Homo sapiens: one gene and its partners. The protein of the gene in region 1 purifies or fractionates together with the protein of each later gene. This does not show direct contact. Each region holds a gene or a part of one and is shown in the gene's direction. Other genes may lie near its edges.

The links. Proteins that work in one complex are often made in the same cells at the same time.
Region 2: the proteins of SIDT2 (region 1) and GHDC purify together in Homo sapiens (affinity purification with mass spectrometry; one large-scale study listed by BioGRID and IntAct). This does not show direct contact.
Region 3: the proteins of SIDT2 (region 1) and KITLG purify together in Homo sapiens (affinity purification with mass spectrometry; one large-scale study listed by BioGRID and IntAct). This does not show direct contact.
Region 4: the proteins of SIDT2 (region 1) and ADCY9 purify together in Homo sapiens (affinity purification with mass spectrometry; one large-scale study listed by BioGRID and IntAct). This does not show direct contact.

What each region holds. Positions count from the first base shown.
Region 1 is NC_000011.10:117,188,081-117,193,227, forward strand, and holds part of SIDT2 (SID1 transmembrane family member 2 precursor), read left to right. Parts: intron 1-627; coding exon 628-746; intron 747-1,088; coding exon 1,089-1,162; intron 1,163-1,254; coding exon 1,255-1,321; intron 1,322-1,871; coding exon 1,872-1,945; intron 1,946-2,085; coding exon 2,086-2,209; intron 2,210-2,542; coding exon 2,543-2,660; intron 2,661-3,797; coding exon 3,798-3,934; intron 3,935-4,173; coding exon 4,174-4,282; intron 4,283-4,493; coding exon 4,494-4,570; intron 4,571-4,739; coding exon 4,740-4,786; intron 4,787-5,072; coding exon 5,073-5,147.
Region 2 is NC_000017.11:42,187,844-42,192,398, reverse strand, and holds the end of GHDC (GH3 domain-containing protein isoform 1 precursor), read left to right. Parts: coding exon 1-158; intron 159-1,188; coding exon 1,189-1,381; intron 1,382-1,495; coding exon 1,496-1,567; intron 1,568-1,641; coding exon 1,642-1,775; intron 1,776-2,039; coding exon of another isoform or gene 2,040-2,128; coding exon 2,129-2,214; intron 2,215-2,477; coding exon 2,478-2,696; 3' UTR 2,697-3,312; downstream 3,313-4,555.
Region 3 is NC_000012.12:88,513,729-88,518,875, reverse strand, and holds part of KITLG (kit ligand isoform b precursor), read left to right. Parts: intron 1-8; coding exon 9-179; intron 180-2,385; coding exon 2,386-2,542; intron 2,543-3,258; coding exon 3,259-3,342; intron 3,343-5,147. UniProt on the Homo sapiens protein: Ligand for the receptor-type protein-tyrosine kinase KIT. Plays an essential role in the regulation of cell survival and proliferation, hematopoiesis, stem cell maintenance, gametogenesis, mast cell development, migration and function, and in melanogenesis.
Region 4 is NC_000016.10:3,965,700-3,970,846, reverse strand, and holds part of ADCY9 (adenylate cyclase type 9), read left to right. Parts: intron 1-3,880; coding exon 3,881-5,072; 3' UTR 5,073-5,147. UniProt on the Homo sapiens protein: Adenylyl cyclase that catalyzes the formation of the signaling molecule cAMP in response to activation of G protein-coupled receptors.

The sequences.
Region 1 (5,147 bases):
CTCTTGTGTCTTCTGAGATAGCAGCAGAGCACAGGCTCCTTTGGCTGGCGGGCTGGCGCCTCCGCTCTCTCCAGGCTGGACAATCTAGTTTATCGTCTGCGTTGCCAGCGCCCTCACTCCCTGGCCTGCTTGGGGAGGGCTCACAGGCATGGGGGTCACATTCTGGCCTCTGGATAAAGGAGAAATGCTCTTTCTGCACCCCAGGCCCACTGGGTCTTTAACCCAGTGGCAGCCAAGGCAGTGTCTTCTCAGAACCCACAGGGCTGGGCACCCTTGAATCAGCATGACTTGCCGAGTTCAATCCTGTTGTTTGTGTCTGCTGCCTGGGGTCTGCCTTGTGTCCTGGCCTGGGAAGCCCTAGCCCATGAGGGGTGCCAGGAACAGAGCAAAGCTAGAGCGGCCCCTGTGTGGTGGCCTCTTCTAGAGTCTACCATCATCCCCCAGGACTTAGGAGCACCTGATGTCTCCTCCCAGCTCCTGAGCCCACTTCCACCCCAACTCTGAGGCCCAGCCCACAATTTGCCTCTTCCCTACTGCCTAATAATTGTTACAATTGCCTCAGATGGGCGAGGGCCACTGTGGGTTTTGTGTCCACCGGTGCAACCCCTCCCTCCCTGCCCTTTCCAGGCCGCTCCTTTGAACCTGTAGGTACTCGGCCCCGAGTGGACTCCATGAGCTCTGTGGAGGAGGATGACTACGACACATTGACCGACATCGATTCCGACAAGAATGTCATTCGCACCAAGGTCTGACCCGTGGGCCTGGCCTGGTCAGGCGTTTCCTGAGAAAGGGACATTCTGCGTTCCCGCCCCAGCATGTTCCCACTGACGTGGCATTTAGGGAAGCAGAAGGAAGGGGCTCAGCTGGGGCAGGGCAGATGCCGGGGAAACTAACCTGACCTCCAACCCCTTCCGGCCTGATTGGCCAAACCCTCTTGGTCTAAGCGGCCGCAGCAGTGGGATGTCCTTGAACCCTGCCCCCCTGAATTCGGCCCTGTGTGAGGGAGGCCCCTCTTGTCCACCTCTAACCTGGGGGAGGGGGCTTCTCCCAAGTAGCAGTAAGTGGGGCTGATTCCAGCTTCTCCCCAGCAATACCTCTATGTGGCTGACCTGGCACGGAAGGACAAGCGTGTTCTGCGGAAAAAGTACCAGATCTACTTCTGGTGAGTGGGCTGAGTGTCTGGGGCTCTGCTGTTGGTGGGTGTGTGGCAGCCTTGGGTGCCACCCACCTCACTGCCGCCCTCCTGCTCCGCAGGAACATTGCCACCATTGCTGTCTTCTATGCCCTTCCTGTGGTGCAGCTGGTGATCACCTACCAGACGGTGAGAGGGCAGGGCAGGTTCACCTTTCCGACAGCCTAGGACACCGCCCCAAAGTGCAGAGCCTCCCAGCCTGGGGCCCTGGTGTTCCATCACAGGACCTGGGTTCAGATCCCAGCTCTGCCTTCCCAGCCGAGTGACCCAGGGCAAATCACATAACCCCCCCAACCCTGAGTGTCAGTTTCTTCATCTGCAAAATGGGAGCAGCCCGCACTAAAGATAGCCCCTCCCTGGTTTCTTGTGCGGATTATGAAACCAAAGTCCTGGGGCTTTGTAAGCATCAGTTTCCCTTCCCTTTTCTCTGTCCCGTGGGGCAAGAACTTCCATCACGGTCATGCCTCAGGGTTTTCAGCCACGCCTAATGAGAGGGGACAGCGACTGTGCTGCATGGCATCCATGTTCTCAGAAGGAACACGTGCCTGCGGTGCTGTGTATTCCCACCTGCTAGCTGTGGTGGCACTTGCTGTTTTTTGCCAAAGGGGCCCGGATGGCGGGGCGTGGGCTGAGTTGGGCGTGACGACAGACCCACTCCCTGTCCCTGCTCCTGCTACAGGTGGTGAATGTCACAGGGAATCAGGACATCTGCTACTACAACTTCCTCTGCGCCCACCCACTGGGCAATCTCAGGTGGGGGTCATGCTGGGAGGCCCCTTGTCCAGGCCAAGGGTGAAATGGGGCAGGGCCTGGGGCTTTGCAATGCCCACGTGGGCTAGGGAAGAGGCCTGGGTGTGAGTCCCAAGCAGTCTGCCTTGTGTTGCCCCTTCTAGCGCCTTCAACAACATCCTCAGCAACCTGGGGTACATCCTGCTGGGGCTGCTTTTCCTGCTCATCATCCTGCAACGGGAGATCAACCACAACCGGGCCCTGCTGCGCAATGACCTCTGTGCCCTGGTAAGGGAGCACCTGCCTGCCTGCCGCAGCCTCAGCTCCAGCACAGACCTCAAGCCTTGGCTCCAGGACACCCTTTTGGGCAGGCCTGGCCCTGCCTTCCCCAGCTCTCCCCTCCCCAGTTCTGTCTGGCCCACCCTATCCAGCCCAGCCTGCCCCACCCTGCCCTGCCCTCCCTTGCCAGCCTGCCCAGGCCAGCCCACCCCTGCACACCCACACTCGACACATACCCCACCCCTTTTCCTCTTCCACTCCTCTTAGGGTCCCTCTTTTGGGTCCCTTCTTCCCTTCCTGCCTCACTTCCTCCCTCCCTTCCCTTCTCTCTCTCCCCAACAGGAATGTGGGATCCCCAAACACTTTGGGCTTTTCTACGCCATGGGCACAGCCCTGATGATGGAGGGGCTGCTCAGTGCTTGCTATCATGTGTGCCCCAACTATACCAATTTCCAGTTTGGTGAGTGGGGCGTCCTTCTTTTCTGGCTCAACCTACAGCAGGGACCTGCCTGAGTCCTTCACTATCCCCAAGTCACCCACAGGGATCGCTAAGACACCCCTGTAGGAAACTCCAAGGCTGGCGTGCCTGGGTGTGCACACATCCTAGCCTATGGAACATGGGCACCTAGATGCTGCTTCATTCATCTGTCAAGCTATTCCTATGTAAAGGCATGTGCCGCAGTGAAGAAAACAGTATAATTAAGAAGGGGTCCCTGGCCGGGTGCAGTGGCTCACGCCTGTAATCCCAGCACTTTGGGAGGCCGAGGCAGATGGATCACGAGGTCAGGAGCTCCAGACCATCCTGGCTAACATGGTGAAACCCCGTCTCTACTAAAAATACAAAAAATTAGCCGGGCACAGTGGCAGGCGCCTGTAGTCCCAGCTGCTCGGGAGGCTGAGGCAGGAGAATGGCATGAATCCGGGAGGCAGAGTTTGCAATGAGCCAAGATCACGCCCTGCGCTCTAGCCTGGGCAACAGAGCGAGACTCCGTCTCAAAAAAAAAAAAAAGAAGGGGGCCCTGGCTGGGCACTGTGGCTCATGCCTGTAATCCTAGCACTTTGGGAGGCTGAGGCGGGGGGATCGCCCAAGGTGGGGAGTTTGAGATCAGCCGGGCCAACATGGTGAAACCCCATCTCTACTAAAAATGCAAAGATTAGCTGGGTGTGGTGGTGCATGCCTGTAATCTCAGCTACTCAGGGGGCTGAGGCAGGAGAATTGCTTGAGCCCAGGAAGCGGAGGTTGCAGTGAGCCGAGATCCCACCATTGCACGCCAGCCTGGGCGACAGAGTGAGACTCCGTCTCCAAAAAAATAAAAGGGAGTCCCTGATCTCAGGGTGCTCACAGACTAAGACACAGACCAAGTTGTCCCTGTTTTCAGGAGATGTCAGACTCTGGGTGACAGCCAGTGGGGTGGCAGTGTGGTGTGGCAGGTACAACTAAGGAACTGAAGTTCAAGTGCCACCCTGCCACCAGCTCACACCATGGCCGTGGTGGGGCACCAGGGCTCTCTCTTCCTCTGGGATTGTTGGGGCCAGGAGTTCTCTGCTGGGGCTTGGTGGCCATTTCTGCAGCTCCCTTCCGTGTCCCTCATCCTAGACACATCGTTCATGTACATGATCGCCGGACTCTGCATGCTGAAGCTCTACCAGAAGCGGCACCCGGACATCAACGCCAGCGCCTACAGTGCCTACGCCTGCCTGGCCATTGTCATCTTCTTCTCTGTGCTGGGCGTGGTGAGGGCCTGACCTGCTCTGCTCAGCCTGTATGATAGGAAAGGTGCACGTGCGTTCAGACACGTAGTGCACACCCTCCGCCACCTCCTGCATGAGAGATTCCTGCTCCTTCCCTGAGATGCCTTCCTGGGCCCCTCTCAGAGTCCCAGCCTGGCTGAGCAGCCAGCCCCAGGAAGGGTGGGCCATCCGAGCCACTTCCCTCTCCACCCTCACCGCTGCCCTTGGTGGCCTCCCGACAGGTCTTTGGCAAAGGGAACACGGCGTTCTGGATCGTCTTCTCCATCATTCACATCATCGCCACCCTGCTCCTCAGCACGCAGCTCTATTACATGGGCCGGTGGAAACTGGGTAAGGGCACGCCCGGGGCAGGGCCTGGGGGAGGGGTCTGGGGGGCCTTGGGAACCCGGACGCACGGGAGACGCTCAGGTTCTGTCTTGGGGGCCCTGGAGTCACTGGGTGAGGAATTAGATCAGGCCTGGGCTCCTCAGCTGGCACATCCCAGGGGTCCAGCAAAGGAGGGTGCCCCGTGCCTGTCAGCACCACTCCCTTCTCTTCGCAGACTCGGGGATCTTCCGCCGCATCCTCCACGTGCTCTACACAGACTGCATCCGGCAGTGCAGCGGGCCGCTCTACGTGGTACCTGCCTGGTTCCCCTGCTCCATTCTCCACATCTCCTTTCTTCCCTCTGATGGGGGAGTGGGGCTGGGCTGAGGACCCAGGGGAGAGTGGGGACCAGCTGGCTGGGCCTTCTTCCACCACCCTCCCTGCCCCTGCCCTCAGTCCCTGTGTCCCTGCTTCCCTCCAGGACCGCATGGTGCTGCTGGTCATGGGCAACGTCATCAACTGGTCGCTGTGAGTATGGTCAGCAGTAGTGGCCTGGTTGGGTGGACAGCTGGGGACTCGGTCAGCCACTGGCTGCCTTGGGGGCTAAGGACAACTTCCAAATGTTGGGCATAAGACATGGGGGCTAAGAGAGATCTTGGCCTCTCTTCTCTCTCTTGGCATCTGGGCTTCTAGAATCTTCTGTGGGCTTCTGAACACAGCCCAACATCATAATAAAACATGCCTAGGCAGGGCAGGAAGAGCACTTCCTTGCCCTTGGGCTTCCTGCTTCACCACCCTTCATCCCTCTTGCCAGGGCTGCCTATGGGCTTATCATGCGCCCCAATGATTTCGCTTCCTACTTGTTGGCCATTGGCATCTGCAACCTGCT
Region 2 (4,555 bases), on another chromosome or scaffold:
AGAGCAGGGGCCACGGGGACTGGCCCTTCGGCTCTGGCCAAAGCTGCAGGTGGTGGTGACTCTGGATGCAGGAGGCCAGGCCGAGGCTGTGGCTGCCCTCGGGGCCTTGTGGTGCCAAGGACTAGCCTTCTTCTCTCCTGCTTATGCTGCCTCGGGAGGTCAGTGGGACTCAAGGGCAGTGAGGTGGGGGCAACGGTCAGTGGTCACATGACAAGCAGCCATGCATTGGGCCCTACATAATCATCTCATTTAATCCTCCCCAACAAGCTGCATGCTAGGGCCAGCAGCCTCCTTTTACAAGTGAAGAAATTCAGGCTCTCTAGGTTAAGAGTCTTGTAGCTGGGTGCAGTGGCTCACGCCTGTAATCCCAGCACTTTGGGAGGCCAAGGTGGATGGATCGTTGAGGTCAGGAGTTCCAGACCAGCCTGGCCAACATGGCGAAACCCCATCTCTACTAAAAATACAAAAACTAGCGGAGTATGGTGGTGCACGCCTATAATCCCAGCTACCTGGGAGGCTGAGGCGGGAGGATTGCTTAAACCTTGGAGGCAGAAATTATAGTGAGCTGAGATCGCGCCATTGCACTCCAGCCTGGGTGACAGAGCAAGACCCTGTCTCAAAAAAAAAAAAAAAAAAAAAAGGCCGGGGCAGTGGCTCACGGGTGTAATCCCAGCACTTTGGGAGAGGCTGAGGTGGGTGGATCACCTGAAGTTAGGAGTTTAAGACCAGCCTGGCCAATGTGGTGAAACCCTGTCTCTACTAAAAATACAAAAATTAGCCAGGTGTGGTGGCAGGCGCCTGTAATCTCAGCTACTCAGGAGGCTCAGGCAGGAGAATCACTTGAACCCAGGAATCACTGAATCACTGAGCCGAGATCGCACCACTGCACTCCAGCCTAGGTGACAGAGCGAGACTCTGTCTCAAAAAAAAAAAGAGTCTTGCACAAATTCATGTGGCACCAGGATTCACTCCCAAGTCTGCCCCCTCCAGGACCACAGCACTCTGCCTCTTTCCAGTGAGGGCCTAAGAGGCAGCCCGCTGAGGCTGGGGGAGCCAGGAAGGATGTGGTGGAAGGGCAGCAGGAGGATCAGGTGCTCAGAGGATCAGGCCTGGGATCCAGGAGGGGCTATTGCCTGGCAGAAAGCGATGGCACCAGCAGACGCTGAGGAGGCTGCTTTGCTTTCACAGGGGTGCTGGGCCTAAACCTACAGCCAGAGCAGCCCCATGGGCTCTACCTTCTGCCCCCTGGGGCCCCCTTTATCGAGCTGCTCCCAGTCAAGGAAGGCACCCAGGAGGAAGCTGCCTCCACCCTCCTTTTGGCCGAGGCCCAGCAGGGCAAGGAGTATGAGCTGGTGCTGACGGACCGCGCCAGCCTCACCAGGTGATCAGCTGCACAGCCCCTGCTACCTGGGGCCCTATGGGACCGTGCTGGGGGCCTGGGGCATGAGCTCAGAAGACCTTGGGCCCGACCTCACTCCCACTTGCACCCCATCAGGTGCCGCCTGGGTGATGTGGTGCGAGTGGTTGGTGCCTACAATCAGTGTCCAGTCGTCAGGTTCATCTGCAGGTAGGTGACCCCGGGGAGCTGAAGGGCCATCCTTGTGTCCTGGGCTCCACTGCCTCTCCCTTCCTCCTCTTCAGGCTGGACCAGACCCTGAGTGTGCGAGGGGAAGATATTGGTGAAGACCTGTTCTCTGAGGCCCTGGGCCGGGCAGTGGGGCAGTGGGCGGGGGCCAAGCTGCTGGACCATGGCTGTGTGGAGAGCAGCATTCTGGGTGAGCCTCCCCACCGGCTCCTGCCTACCATCCTTGAGCTACCCTTCAACTCCTACCTCCCCTGCCAGGGGACTGCTAGGAAAGAGATAAGCCTCCTTTACTACTCCTACAAAAGTCCTTCTCTGCATCTAACTCTCATCCATCCTGCTGCAGTCTCTACCCATTTTCTTTCCTGATCTGTCTCCTATTTAGGATCAAGCTCTAGGTTCCTCTCCATTTACCCCACTCCCCACCAAGAAACTCTTTTTTCCCTATGAATCTCAGAGTGGGGAAGAACAGATAGGGCAGAGGACACTAGACTTGGCAGCTGCCCATTCACCGGAAGTATGTGTGCACATGGGGTCTATTCACAGATTCCTCTGCGGGCTCTGCTCCCCACTACGAGGTGTTTGTGGCGCTGAGGGGGCTGAGGAATCTGTCAGAGGAAAATCGAGACAAGGTAAAGGAGACGAGGACAGGGTCTGACTGTAGACCCCTTCACTCTGCACACTCCCAGGGTGCCATGGAGATCAGGGCTGATGGGAAGGAGAGGGGTGGCGGAGGAGAAGCTCCCTGGGGCTCTGGGAGGGGAGGGCTAAGTCCCACAGACACACACCTGTCCACACAAAACTTCTAAACACATGTAGCCTGGGCACAGCCACACACGCCTCGTGTGCACACTCACAGTCACACACCAGCTCACTCAGGCTGTTCTGTTCCCAGCTGGACCACTGCCTTCAGGAAGCCTCTCCCCGCTACAAGTCCCTGCGGTTCTGGGGCAGCGTGGGCCCTGCCAGAGTCCACCTGGTGGGGCAGGGAGCCTTCCGAGCACTCCGGGCAGCCCTCGCTGCCTGCCCCTCCTCCCCCTTCCCCCCTGCGATGCCCCGGGTCCTTCGGCACAGGCACCTGGCCCAGTGTCTGCAGGAGAGGGTGGTGTCCTGAGTCAAGTCCTGCCCCACCGCCCAGCTCCCCCCAGAGGCCACCTCGCCCCTCCCTCTGGGACCTCTCCGGATGGGGAGTCCTTGGCCAGGGTCTCTGACTCTGTGTCACCTGACATTTGCCCATGAGAGCCGCTGGGCCTTAGAGAGGCCTTGGCCCAGCTGACCGGTTCTGAAGTATGGGCCTCCGGGGTTAGCAGATGCCAGCAGTGCCTGCCCGTGTCCCCATGTCCCGGCATGAAGGACACTGCTAGAGAGTTACCATGCACACCGATGGTTTCCTGTATCACAGCCCAAAGAGGTTCTCTGGTGGCCACAGCTGTGTGCTCAGTCAGTGCACTGGGCAAGCTAGAAGTGTTGGGGGGTTAATGTCCCCAGGAGCAGCAACCCTGAGTCAATAAGGAGCAGGACCTCAGCTTCATTGTCCTTGAGCAGGACAATTCTGAAGTGTATTCTACATAAACTCTCAGAGGATGCCCAGCAGGATGGAGTCCCAGTTGCCCGCAGCAGTAACCCACTCATTCATGTACTTCCTGCGGGGGCTCTCCCTTCCCTCTCTTCCCCACTCCCCCGCCTTGGGCTTCCTGGGATGGCTCCCAAATAAACCTCTTGCACCCAGATTCTTGCCTCAGGGTCTGCTTTGGGGAAACGGGAGTGGACCCCGGCCCAGCCATTCCCCCACTGAGCTCCAGGACTTTCCCCCAACATTCTGCTCTGGGCCTGGCAAGGCTGCATGCGCACACAGGAGCCTTGGAGGACTCGTGGCACATCCTAGGCCAGCACCCACAAACCACTTCTGCGGTGGGGAAGGGAGAGCTATTACTTCACATCATAAGGCATCGCCGCAGGAAGCAACTCCGGAGACCATCTGGGTTCACTGTTCCATACTAATGAGGAAACGCAGCCTCCACAAGGTTGTAGAGGCTAAAATAAAAGAAAGAAAGAAACTGGGCTAGATTTTGGCTTCCTTCCCTCCCACTGCCTGGACTGGAGTTTTAAGGTTTTCCATCTTGGAGGCTGATGGGAGGGGCAGACCTCAGCTCCTCCTCAGTAGAGGCAGCACTGGATCCAGATGCCTCTGAATAGCTTCTCCATTCCATGTCCCACACCCAGGTCCTGGCTGCATACCCACCCGGCCCCCACCTCCGCCTGTCACTCCATCCTGTTAAAATCTTCCTGTGAAGCTGGGCACAGTGGCATGGGCCTATAGTCCCAGCTACTCAAGAGGCTGCGGTGGAAGGATGGTTCATGCCCAGGAGTTCAAGACCAGCCTGGGCAACACAGCGAGACCATCTCGGGAAAAAAAAACAAAAAAAAAAACCTCCCATGGTGGCCCCCATCGCCCACAGGATTAAGACCAATCAATTTGGCCTATTAGACCCTTTGACCTTGGCCCTCACCTACATGTGCAGCTACCTCTCTCCCCTTGCTTGAAAGAAGGCCTGGACTAAGGACCACGCCTCACCTCCCATCTAAGGGTTGTTAAGCACTGTCAACTCCAGGAGTTTGCTCAAGTTGTCCCTTCTATGTAATGCCCTCTATCCCGCTGCCCCTGATGTAAACTAGCTTTCATGCAAGGCCTTTGAGGACCCCCTACCAGGCCCACCCCAGGCAGAGTGACTGGCTCAGCTTTGCTCATGTGGGCAGTAGTCCTCTCCTTCACTGAACTATCATTATGCCTGAACTGCCTCCCACCTGGAATATGAGTTCCTTGGAAACTGGGCTAGATCCTGTGCACAATTGCCCCCATGCCCAGTGCCTGGTGTGGCATGCAGCAGGAGCTCAATAAAGAGGTTGTAGGCCAGGTGCCATGGCTCATGCCTGTAATCCCAGCACTTTAGGAGGTCGAGGCAGTCAGATCAC
Region 3 (5,147 bases), on another chromosome or scaffold:
TCTTGCAGCCAAGTCATTGTTGGATAAGCGAGATGGTAGTACAATTGTCAGACAGCTTGACTGATCTTCTGGACAAGTTTTCAAATATTTCTGAAGGCTTGAGTAATTATTCCATCATAGACAAACTTGTGAATATAGTGGATGACCTTGTGGAGTGCGTGAAAGAAAACTCATCTAAGGTAACTTTGTGTTCATTGGGATTATTTTTCATTACGCTTCTCTAAAAACCCATGCTTCTTGGTGCTGTTGGGGAAAATGAGGCACCTTTATTTATGATATTTTGATTGTATAAACTTCAAATTTAAAAATCTTGTTCAGATGAGCAAAGAAAACAAGTATTTGCAGTTATACTGCAATACTGAAGTGCACATTCAAACTTAAATGTTGTCATCTAATACAAAAATAAAACTTATTTACATTACAATGCAAAATCAGTCCTGCCTTTATCTTTATTCTTCATAAGTGAAGTCCTTGAAACCTTTCTATTAAGTTACAAGTGTTCATTTAAATGGAAAATTGTCTGTAATAAACACATATCCTTTTATGCATAATGTAATCACCCCATAGGTCACAGCAAAGGAATACATTTTGGCTCCTCAAAGTCATTGGATAACTGATCATCACCAACTTCAGGATATGGGCATGACATATGGAATAGGCAATGTACTCCAGAAAATAAGAGTGAGATATTGGAGTTTAAATTCTGGCTCTGTCGCTAATGAGTTCTGTGAGCGTAACTTCTTTGTACCTCACTTTCTTTATCTTTAAAATGGGGGCAATGCCAGAATTCATCTAACAGGGTCGACGTTAGGTTATTTGCCATGAGTACTTTAACACCCTACCTAGCAAAATAAATATTAATAAAATTTGATGTTTTTTCATCACACTGTGTCTATAGCAAAATCATGCTTAGGAGACCTGATTTGGTATACAGTTCAAATGGCCAAAGATTAGCTTAGGAGACTTATGTAAGTTTAAATTCAAAGTTTTAAGCAGGATTCTGTACCTTAATACCTAAATGCTTTTTCCTGTGTCCCATCTAAATTCCAGCTATTCTGTAAGACCCAACTTCAATCCCATTTGTACTATCCTATCTTATAATTCTTACCATACTAATAATCCAATCACTACCTTTAATCTTTGTATTATTTTCTAATTTCCAAAGTCAGAATGTGGTGTTAACCACTCTTTCATATTACTACTGCATATAGTGTGCCAATGGCATTCAAAAGAAGTAGAGATCACAAAAAGTAGAGTGCATCACACAAGGTGTCACAAAGGAAATAACATGTGCATTAGAGCCTTAAAGATGAGTTAGGTAAATGAGTTAGGTCAATGGTGATGTTGGGAAGAACACTGCAAACAACAAAGAATGTGCATTTACTAATCATGGCACTTTGGTGGGAACCCAGGAGATTACCAATTATATTTCTCAGTTGTTTTGGAGATTGAGTTACTGTATATAAAGCACTTAGAATAGTCCATAGTAAGTAACAGATAGTTGTTTATTTTGGTTACCTACTTTTCTTTATAATCCATTATGTATCCCTACAACATAGCTTTGATTTGCTTTGGGGAATTTTATATTAATTTTATATCAATTAATCATACCATTTTTATTATTTTGGGACTTGCCTCTTTCACTCAGCTTTAGGTTTAGAAGATGTATCCACTTTAAAGCATATAGCTGTAGTTAACCTTCTCTTGAATTGAACTCCACTAATTCAATATATCACTAGTTATTAAGCCACTCTGTCTGGATTGACATAAGTGATACAGATATTGCTGCAAAAAAACTTTTTTATATGTCTGATGGTATATATGTGCAATAGTTTCAGTAGGTTATTTACCTGAGAATGGAATTTCTGAGTCACAGGATGGTCACATGTCTAACTTTACTGGATAATATCAAATGTACCAACTTACATTATCTCAGCAGTATGTAAGAGTTCCCTTGCCAATATTTAGTATCATCTGACTTTCTAATTTTTGGATATTAGAGCATGCATTATGGTGTGGTTTTTTTTTTTTTTTTCTAAAGACTGGAAGTTCTTGTAATGGAGGGGTCTTTTAAAAATAAACCCTCATGTTTTTAATGAGCATCTCTAAAGAAAAATATCCCCAGCTTGTTTTTAAGGTTATTTATTTTATTTTATTTTTTGCCATGACATTGTGTTCACTGCCCCAGATTCAACTTGTGATCCCACTGGGATCACTACCCTGCATTACCAATCTGAATTACATACGTTAAAACAGCCATCTAAAAGTGCTAGTTGTAAGAGTCTAAATACTTGAATCTTTGAGAGACATATTTATAGTCCATTATCTTCACCTCAGTTAAGTCTGAAGACTATTTGAAAAATGTAATCCTATTTTTTCTTCTAGGATCTAAAAAAATCATTCAAGAGCCCAGAACCCAGGCTCTTTACTCCTGAAGAATTCTTTAGAATTTTTAATAGATCCATTGATGCCTTCAAGGACTTTGTAGTGGCATCTGAAACTAGTGATTGTGTGGTTTCTTCAACATTAAGTCCTGAGAAAGGTAAGACATGTAAGCATTTCCAGTTCAAATGTAAACAACAAACTTAAATCTTCCCTATGTAGTAAGAATCTACCTCTGTGTTAAGCTGTAGCAAGATACATGCATGTACGTCTAATAAAAAAGCAGATATCAATAGCACAGAAGAAACTAATGATTGTAGATTTGTGGGTTTCTAACCCAAAGCAATATTCATCAGTTTCAAATTAGTGAGCTGTTTGTGAGTAAACAATATATGAGATGGCCACTCATACCTTTTCTCATCTAATATTTGCCAGTAATTACAATTATATTATTCTGTACCTCCAGTCTACTTAATGGTCCTTCTCAAATTTTTTCTTAAGGATCTAACTCTAAGTCACAAATTCTGATCCTCCCCAGTTACTCTGTATTAAGACTCTTTTTTCCCTTCACTGGGTCCCTATAATACAAACCTGGATTCATTGCTTTCTTTTTTTAATGAGAAATTACCATCAATGTGTCATTATTTGTATTTATTAACATATTTATTCAATAAGTATTTGTTCTACAAGGTGATAATGGTGGATTTCTTAGTAAAATAGAATAGCAGGACCCAGTATGAAATAAATAGGATCTGAATACTCTAGATTTGGGAAGCAGACCTGGCAAGTAATCTGGTATTGCACTTCACCTTTCAGGGACTCTATAACTCATACAAATCACCATATAACACTGACACATTATTGCTTTCTATTTAGATTCCAGAGTCAGTGTCACAAAACCATTTATGTTACCCCCTGTTGCAGCCAGCTCCCTTAGGAATGACAGCAGTAGCAGTAATAGTAAGTACATATATCTGATTTAATGCATGCATGGCTCCAATTAGCACCTATAGGAGTATTGCATGGGCTTTCAAGGAAACTTCTACATTTATTATTATTGATACTGTTCTGTTACTGTTATTCCTTTTATGGTCTTCTTGAGACTTAAGTTTGTAGAATTAAATTTCCCTAGAGCTGGAGATAATGTTTAGAGAATTAGGCCAATAAATTTTCTGCTGAGGTTATTTTAAATAAGACATAAAATTAATTTTAGAAATATGATTTATGCCTTTTGTTGAATCATTAACATATATTCTGTGTGGAATGTGTCTGACAAAAACGGAAGTTTAAAATTAAGTGTATAAATGCTGGTTGTTAACATATATTCTGTGTGGAATGTGTCTGACAAAAACGGAAGTTTAATTGTATAAATGCTGGTTGTATAGAATTCCAAAGATATTTTCAGATTTGTGTATATCAGTATTTACTATTGCGCATTTGGAAATTTGATGATTTTGTTATTTTACCACAGAATTATATGCTTGATGAGAATAGGCTTATTTTTCTGAAATTTCTGTCCTCTTTTGCCAAGAACCCAATTTTCTTTGAAAATCCAGACAAAGGTCATTATAAAGTTTATTGTATTTACTAAATACTCTCTAGCCTCATGGAAGGTGCAGGAAGAATAAAAACCATCTTGTGATCTAGGCTAAAAAAGTCATCCCTTAGGACTTATAAATGGGGCACTGTCATTTGTTCAGGGACTTAGAAGACCTATCTGTGAAAAGAAGTAATCAATTTATTACTAATTCATAATAGCTTGTTACAATGCAGAACATTTAAAAAAACTCTAAAATACAATTTACTTATTTTGGAATTTTTTGCCACCAAAACCTGACCTGAAGTGATTTGAGGCTATTTATAGTCTATTTATCTTTCTAAAAGTGAATATATATTTTACTAATGAAATATTAATGTATTTGATTACAGAATGCTACCCAGGATTCACTGGGGATAGTATATGTTATACATTATGTGCAGGACAGAATCTTCTGAAACCTAAAATTCTAAATTACGTAGCATATCAGTTCTAAAATGTGTCAAAAAGGGACTAGAGCCCTGTTTGTGTGTTAGTCAATTAAGGGTTTTCTTACCAACTATGGATTTTATTAACATTTTCAAAGGAGCAACTTTTGTCTTCTTAAATTCTCTGCTTATATTTCATTGATTTCTAATCTTTATTATTTCCTTCCATTTGCTTTGTGTTTCATTTACTCCACTTTTTCTAGCTTTTCGAAGTGGAAAAATTAGATCATTGATTTTAAACTATTTTTGCTAATTACAAGCACTTAAAGGTATAAATTTTCTTAAATACACTGCTTTAGCTGCACCTCACACATTTTTGTGTTGTGATTTTATTATTTTTCTAAATATTTGTCAACTGTGATTTCTTCTTTGATTCATGGATAATATAAAAGTGCGTTGTTTGATGTCAAAAAGTTTGAGATTTTCCTATATATCTTATTGTTACTAGTCTATGAATTTTGTTGTCAGAAAACATACTCTATAATTTTTTTGAAATGTACTGAAACTATTTTATGTATGTTATTTAACTGTTGAATGCAGCATTCAAATTTGGCCAAAATGGTTGATAGTGTTGTTTATATCTTCCCTTCCTTATTAAGCTTTTTGTCTAATTTTTATTAATTATTGAGAAAAGGGAATTGAAAATATTAACTTTTGATTGTGGATTTGTCTGATTTTCCATTTGGTTTTGGGTTTTTTGCTTCATATATTTTAAAGCTTTATTATTATGGGCTTATACA
Region 4 (5,147 bases), on another chromosome or scaffold:
ACCCAGAAAGATGGCATGGCTTACCCAAGATTCTGAAACTCCCCCGCGGTCCAGCCAGGATGGGGCCCAGGGGTTCTGTTCCACCCACGGCCAGGGCTTTTGGCGGTTGTGCTTCGCAGAGGGCCGTGATGGCCACACAGGTCAAGCTCATTGTTTTTTAATATCCCAAGAACAGTTAGTGAAACTTATTAGACACTTTGATTAAAGGACTGAGCTTTTGGCCGGGCATGGTGGCTCGTGCCTGTAATCCCAGCACTTTGGGAGGCCAAGGCGGGTGGATCACCTGAGGTCAGGAGTTCCAGACCAACCTGGTCAACATGGTGAAACCCTGTCTCTACTAAAAAATACAAAAATTAGCCAAGTATGGTGGCGCACACCTGTAGTCCCAGCTACTCGGGAGGCTGAGGCAAGAGAATCACTTGAACCTGGAAGCGGAGGTTGCAGTGAGCCAAGGTCGCGCCATTGCACTCCAGCCAGGGCAACAGAGCAAGAAAGAAAAAAGAAGAATTGAGTTTTGGCCAGGCGTGGTGGCTCATCCCTGTAATCCCAGCACTTGGGGAGGCTAAGGCAGGCAGATTGGTTGAGCTCAGGAGTTCAAGACCAGCCTGGGCAAGATGGCGAGACCCTGTCTCTAAAAGAAAAAGAATTGAGCTTTCCAGTGTGATGGAGCTGTCTAAACTGTGGATCCGCCAGTCGCATATATAAGTATATAGTGACCAAGCCCATTATTGCATCAAATCAACTGGCCTACTCTGTGCGCGGGAGGAATGCATCAGGGTACAGCATTTACATGAACAGAACAGTCACGGTGTTGTAAAAAAGAAAAAGACTAGAATGCAGTTCAACAAATGTTAATAGTGATTGCCTCTGGATGGCAGGACGATGGACAAATCTTTTTTGTCTATTTTTTTCTACATTTTCTATGATGAGTATGTAGTATTTTTAAATGGGAAAAAATGTATTCCAGCACACTGGGGAGGCAGAAGCAGAACAGTTTGAACCCAGGAGTTTGAGACCAGCCTGGGCAACATAGTAAGACCTCATCTCTACAAAAAGTTCAAAAAATTAGCCAGGTGTGGTGGTGTGTGCCTGTAGTCCCAGCTAATCTGGAGGCTGAGGCGGGAGGATCGCTTTAGCCTGGGAGGTCAAAGCTGCAGTGAGCTAGGATCGCACCACTGCAGTCCAGCTTGGATGACAGAGACAGACCCTGTCTCTTCTTAAAAAAAAAAAAAAATACATATATATATATATATATATATATATATATATATATATATTTCAAACAAACTTTAAGAAATTGTGCTACTCAGCCAGGTGTGGTGGCTCACACCTGTAATCCCAGCACTTTGGGAGGTCGAGGCGGGCAGATCACTTTAGGTCAGGAGTTTGAGACCAGCCCAGCCAACATGGTGAAACCCCGTTTCTACCAAAAAAAAAATACAAAAATTAGCTGGGCCTGGTGGCGCACACTACTCAGGAGGCTGGGCCGCAAGAATCGTTGAGCCCAGGAGGTGGAGGTTGCAGTGAGCTGAGATCACACCACTGCATGCCAGCCCGGGCTAGAGAGTGAGACTCTGTCTCAAAAAAGAAAAAAGAAAAAGAAAAAAAGAAATTGTGCTACTCACCACTCATCTGCAGCCCCCTGACCATGGCTGTCTCCATCAGTGCCACTGAAGTGGAGACAGCCCCGCTGAAAGCAGGCTCAGTTATCAAAGGGAGCAGAGACTGGGCGCGGTGGCTCACGCCTGTGATCCCAGCACTTTGGGAGGCCGAGGCGGGTGGATCACGAGGTCACGAGTTTGAGACCAACCTGTCTCTAGTAAAAGTACAAAAATAATCTGGGCATGGTGGCGTGCACCTGTAGTCCGAGCTACACAGAAGGCTGAAGCAGGAGAATTGCTTGAACCCAGGAGGCGGAGTTTGTGGTGAGGCGAGATCACGCCACTGCACTTTAACCTGGGCAACAAAGCGAGACTCCTTCTCAAAAAAAAGAAAAAAAAAAGCAGAAACTGGTTCAGCCTTGTTTAGAAGGGCAATTTGGAAATTTCTAAGGAAATTCTAAATGTGCAATATTTAAAATGACTCAGCACTTCCATACGCACAAAGATAGGGGTAGGGGAATATTCCCTGTGACACTGTTTGTGGTAAGAAAAGACAGACTCGGGCCCAGTTCCATCAGGGGGAATCTGGCTAAATTACAGAATTTCCGAGTGCTGGAACACTGCACAGCCATGAGAAAATAATGGCACTGGTTCAGATGTTAGCATTGTCCTGAGTGATTTCGGCAAAAAGAACTAACCCAGAATCAGGGGAGATGGCGTCTTGTCAAACTTTTTTATACAGGTAGAGAGTATAGAACTCATAAAAGCTATTTGTAAAATGATAAGTTTATTGGATTAGAAATCTAAGAACCAAGGCCAGGCGCGGTGGCTCACACCTGTAATCCCAGCACTTTGGGAGGCTGAGGTGGGCGGATCACCTGAGGTCGGGAGTTTGAGACAAGCCTGACCAACATGGAGAAACCCCGTCTCTACTAAAAATACAAAATTAGCTGGGTGTGGTGGCACATGTCTGTGAACCCAGCTACTGGGGAGGCTGAGGCAGGAGAATCACTTGAACCCGGGAGGCGGAGGTTGTAGTGAGCCAAGATCTCACCAGCAACAAGAGCAAAACTCCGTCTCAAAAAAAAAGAAATCTAAGAACCAAATATATCAGAGAATGTTAAATTTCTTGGGTATGATGATGATATTGTAGTTACATAGGGAAATATCCTTATTCTTAGGAGATACATGCTGAAATATTTAGAGCTGAAGTGCCATGTCAGCAACTTACTTTCAAAAAGTTCATTCAGCAAAAAGCCGGGTGCAGTGGCTCACACCTGTAATCCCAGCACTTTAAGGCAAGCTGATCACTTTGAGATCAGGAGTTTGAGACCAGCCTGGCCAACATGATGAAACCCTGTCTCTACTAAAAATACAAAAATTAGCCAGGCATGGTGGCACACACCTATAGTCCCAGCTATTCAGGAGGCTGAGGCAGGAGGATCACTTGAACTCAGGAAGCAGAGGGTGCAGTGAGCCAAGATCGCACCACTGCACTCTAGCCTGGGCAACAGAGCAAGACTCAATCTTAAAAAAAAAAAAAAAAAAAGATGTTAGGCCAAGCACAGTTCAAGCCTGTAATCCCAGCACTTTGGAAGGCCAAGGTGGGAGGATGGCTTGAAGTTACGAGTTTAAGACCAGCCTTGGCAACCAGCAAGACCCTGTCTCTTCAAAAAAAAAATTTTTTAATTAGCTAGGTGTGGTGGTACATGCGTGTAATCCCAGCTACTTAGGAGGCTGGGCAGGAGGATCGTTTGAGCCCAGGAGTTTAAGGCTGCAGTGAGCCATGATTGTGCCATTGCACTCCAGCCTGGACAACAACCATGTCTCTAAAAAAACAAAGGAGAGAGAGAAAAGAAAAGATTTTTGAAAGAAGCTAAAGACTTCTAAAAAAAAAGAAAAAGAAAAAGAAAAGAAAAACGATTACCAAGCACTTACTAAAGATGTTAGTTACAGGGCTGGGCACAGCAGCTCACGCCTGTAATTCCAGCACTTTGGGAGGCCAAGGCAGGAAAATTGCTTGAGCCCAGGAGTGCAAGACCAGCCTGGGCAACACAGTGAGACCCCACCTCTATTTAACAAAATGAAATCAATCAGTTTCAAAAGTTAGTCTTTATCCCTCCATACCTTCAGCCAGCCCAAACCAGGAATGGGCAGCTTGACAGCTTCAGGTTGTTGAAGGCCTGGACTCAACAAAGCTTTGCGTAGCTAGCGGGGCTGTTCTGAGCTTGGAAGCGCCGAGCAGTAACCTCTCCCTTTCCCGTGTCTTTGCTCTCCAGTTCCGAGAGGAACCCGTGCAATAGTTCGGTGCCGCGTGACCTCCGGCGGCCCGCCAGCCTCATCGGCCAGGAGGTGGTTCTCGTCTTCTTTCTCCTGCTCTTGTTGGTCTGGTTCCTGAATCGCGAATTTGAAGTCAGCTACCGCCTCCACTACCACGGAGACGTGGAAGCGGATCTTCACCGCACCAAGATCCAGAGCATGCGGGACCAGGCAGACTGGCTGCTGAGGAACATCATCCCCTACCACGTGGCTGAGCAGCTGAAGGTGTCCCAGACCTACTCCAAGAACCATGACAGCGGAGGGGTGATCTTCGCCAGCATCGTCAACTTCAGCGAGTTCTACGAGGAGAACTACGAGGGCGGCAAGGAGTGCTACCGGGTCCTCAACGAGCTCATCGGGGACTTTGACGAGCTCCTAAGCAAGCCGGACTACAGCAGCATCGAGAAGATCAAGACCATCGGAGCCACGTACATGGCGGCGTCAGGGCTGAACACCGCGCAGGCCCAGGACGGCAGCCACCCGCAGGAGCACCTGCAGATCCTGTTCGAGTTCGCCAAGGAGATGATGCGCGTGGTGGACGACTTCAACAACAACATGCTGTGGTTCAACTTCAAGCTCCGCGTCGGCTTCAACCATGGGCCCCTCACGGCCGGGGTCATCGGCACCACCAAGCTGCTGTACGACATCTGGGGAGACACCGTCAACATCGCCAGCAGGATGGACACCACCGGCGTGGAGTGCCGCATCCAGGTGAGCGAAGAGAGCTACCGCGTCTTGAGCAAGATGGGCTATGACTTCGACTACAGAGGGACCGTGAATGTCAAGGGGAAAGGCCAGATGAAGACCTACCTGTACCCAAAGTGCACGGATCACAGGGTCATCCCACAGCACCAGCTGTCCATCTCCCCAGACATCCGCGTCCAGGTGGATGGCAGCATCGGACGGTCTCCCACAGACGAGATTGCCAACCTGGTGCCTTCTGTCCAGTATGTGGACAAGACATCTCTGGGTTCTGACAGCAGCACGCAGGCCAAGGATGCCCACCTGTCCCCCAAGAGACCGTGGAAGGAGCCCGTCAAAGCCGAAGAAAGGGGTCGATTTGGCAAAGCCATAGAGAAAGACGACTGTGACGAAACAGGAATAGAAGAAGCCAACGAACTCACCAAGCTCAACGTTTCAAAGAGTGTGTGAGGCGGCGCCCACCCGCTGCCCGAGGTGCTCTGTTTGTCGAAACACAGTAATATTTGTATTTGGCTGTTGTGCTTT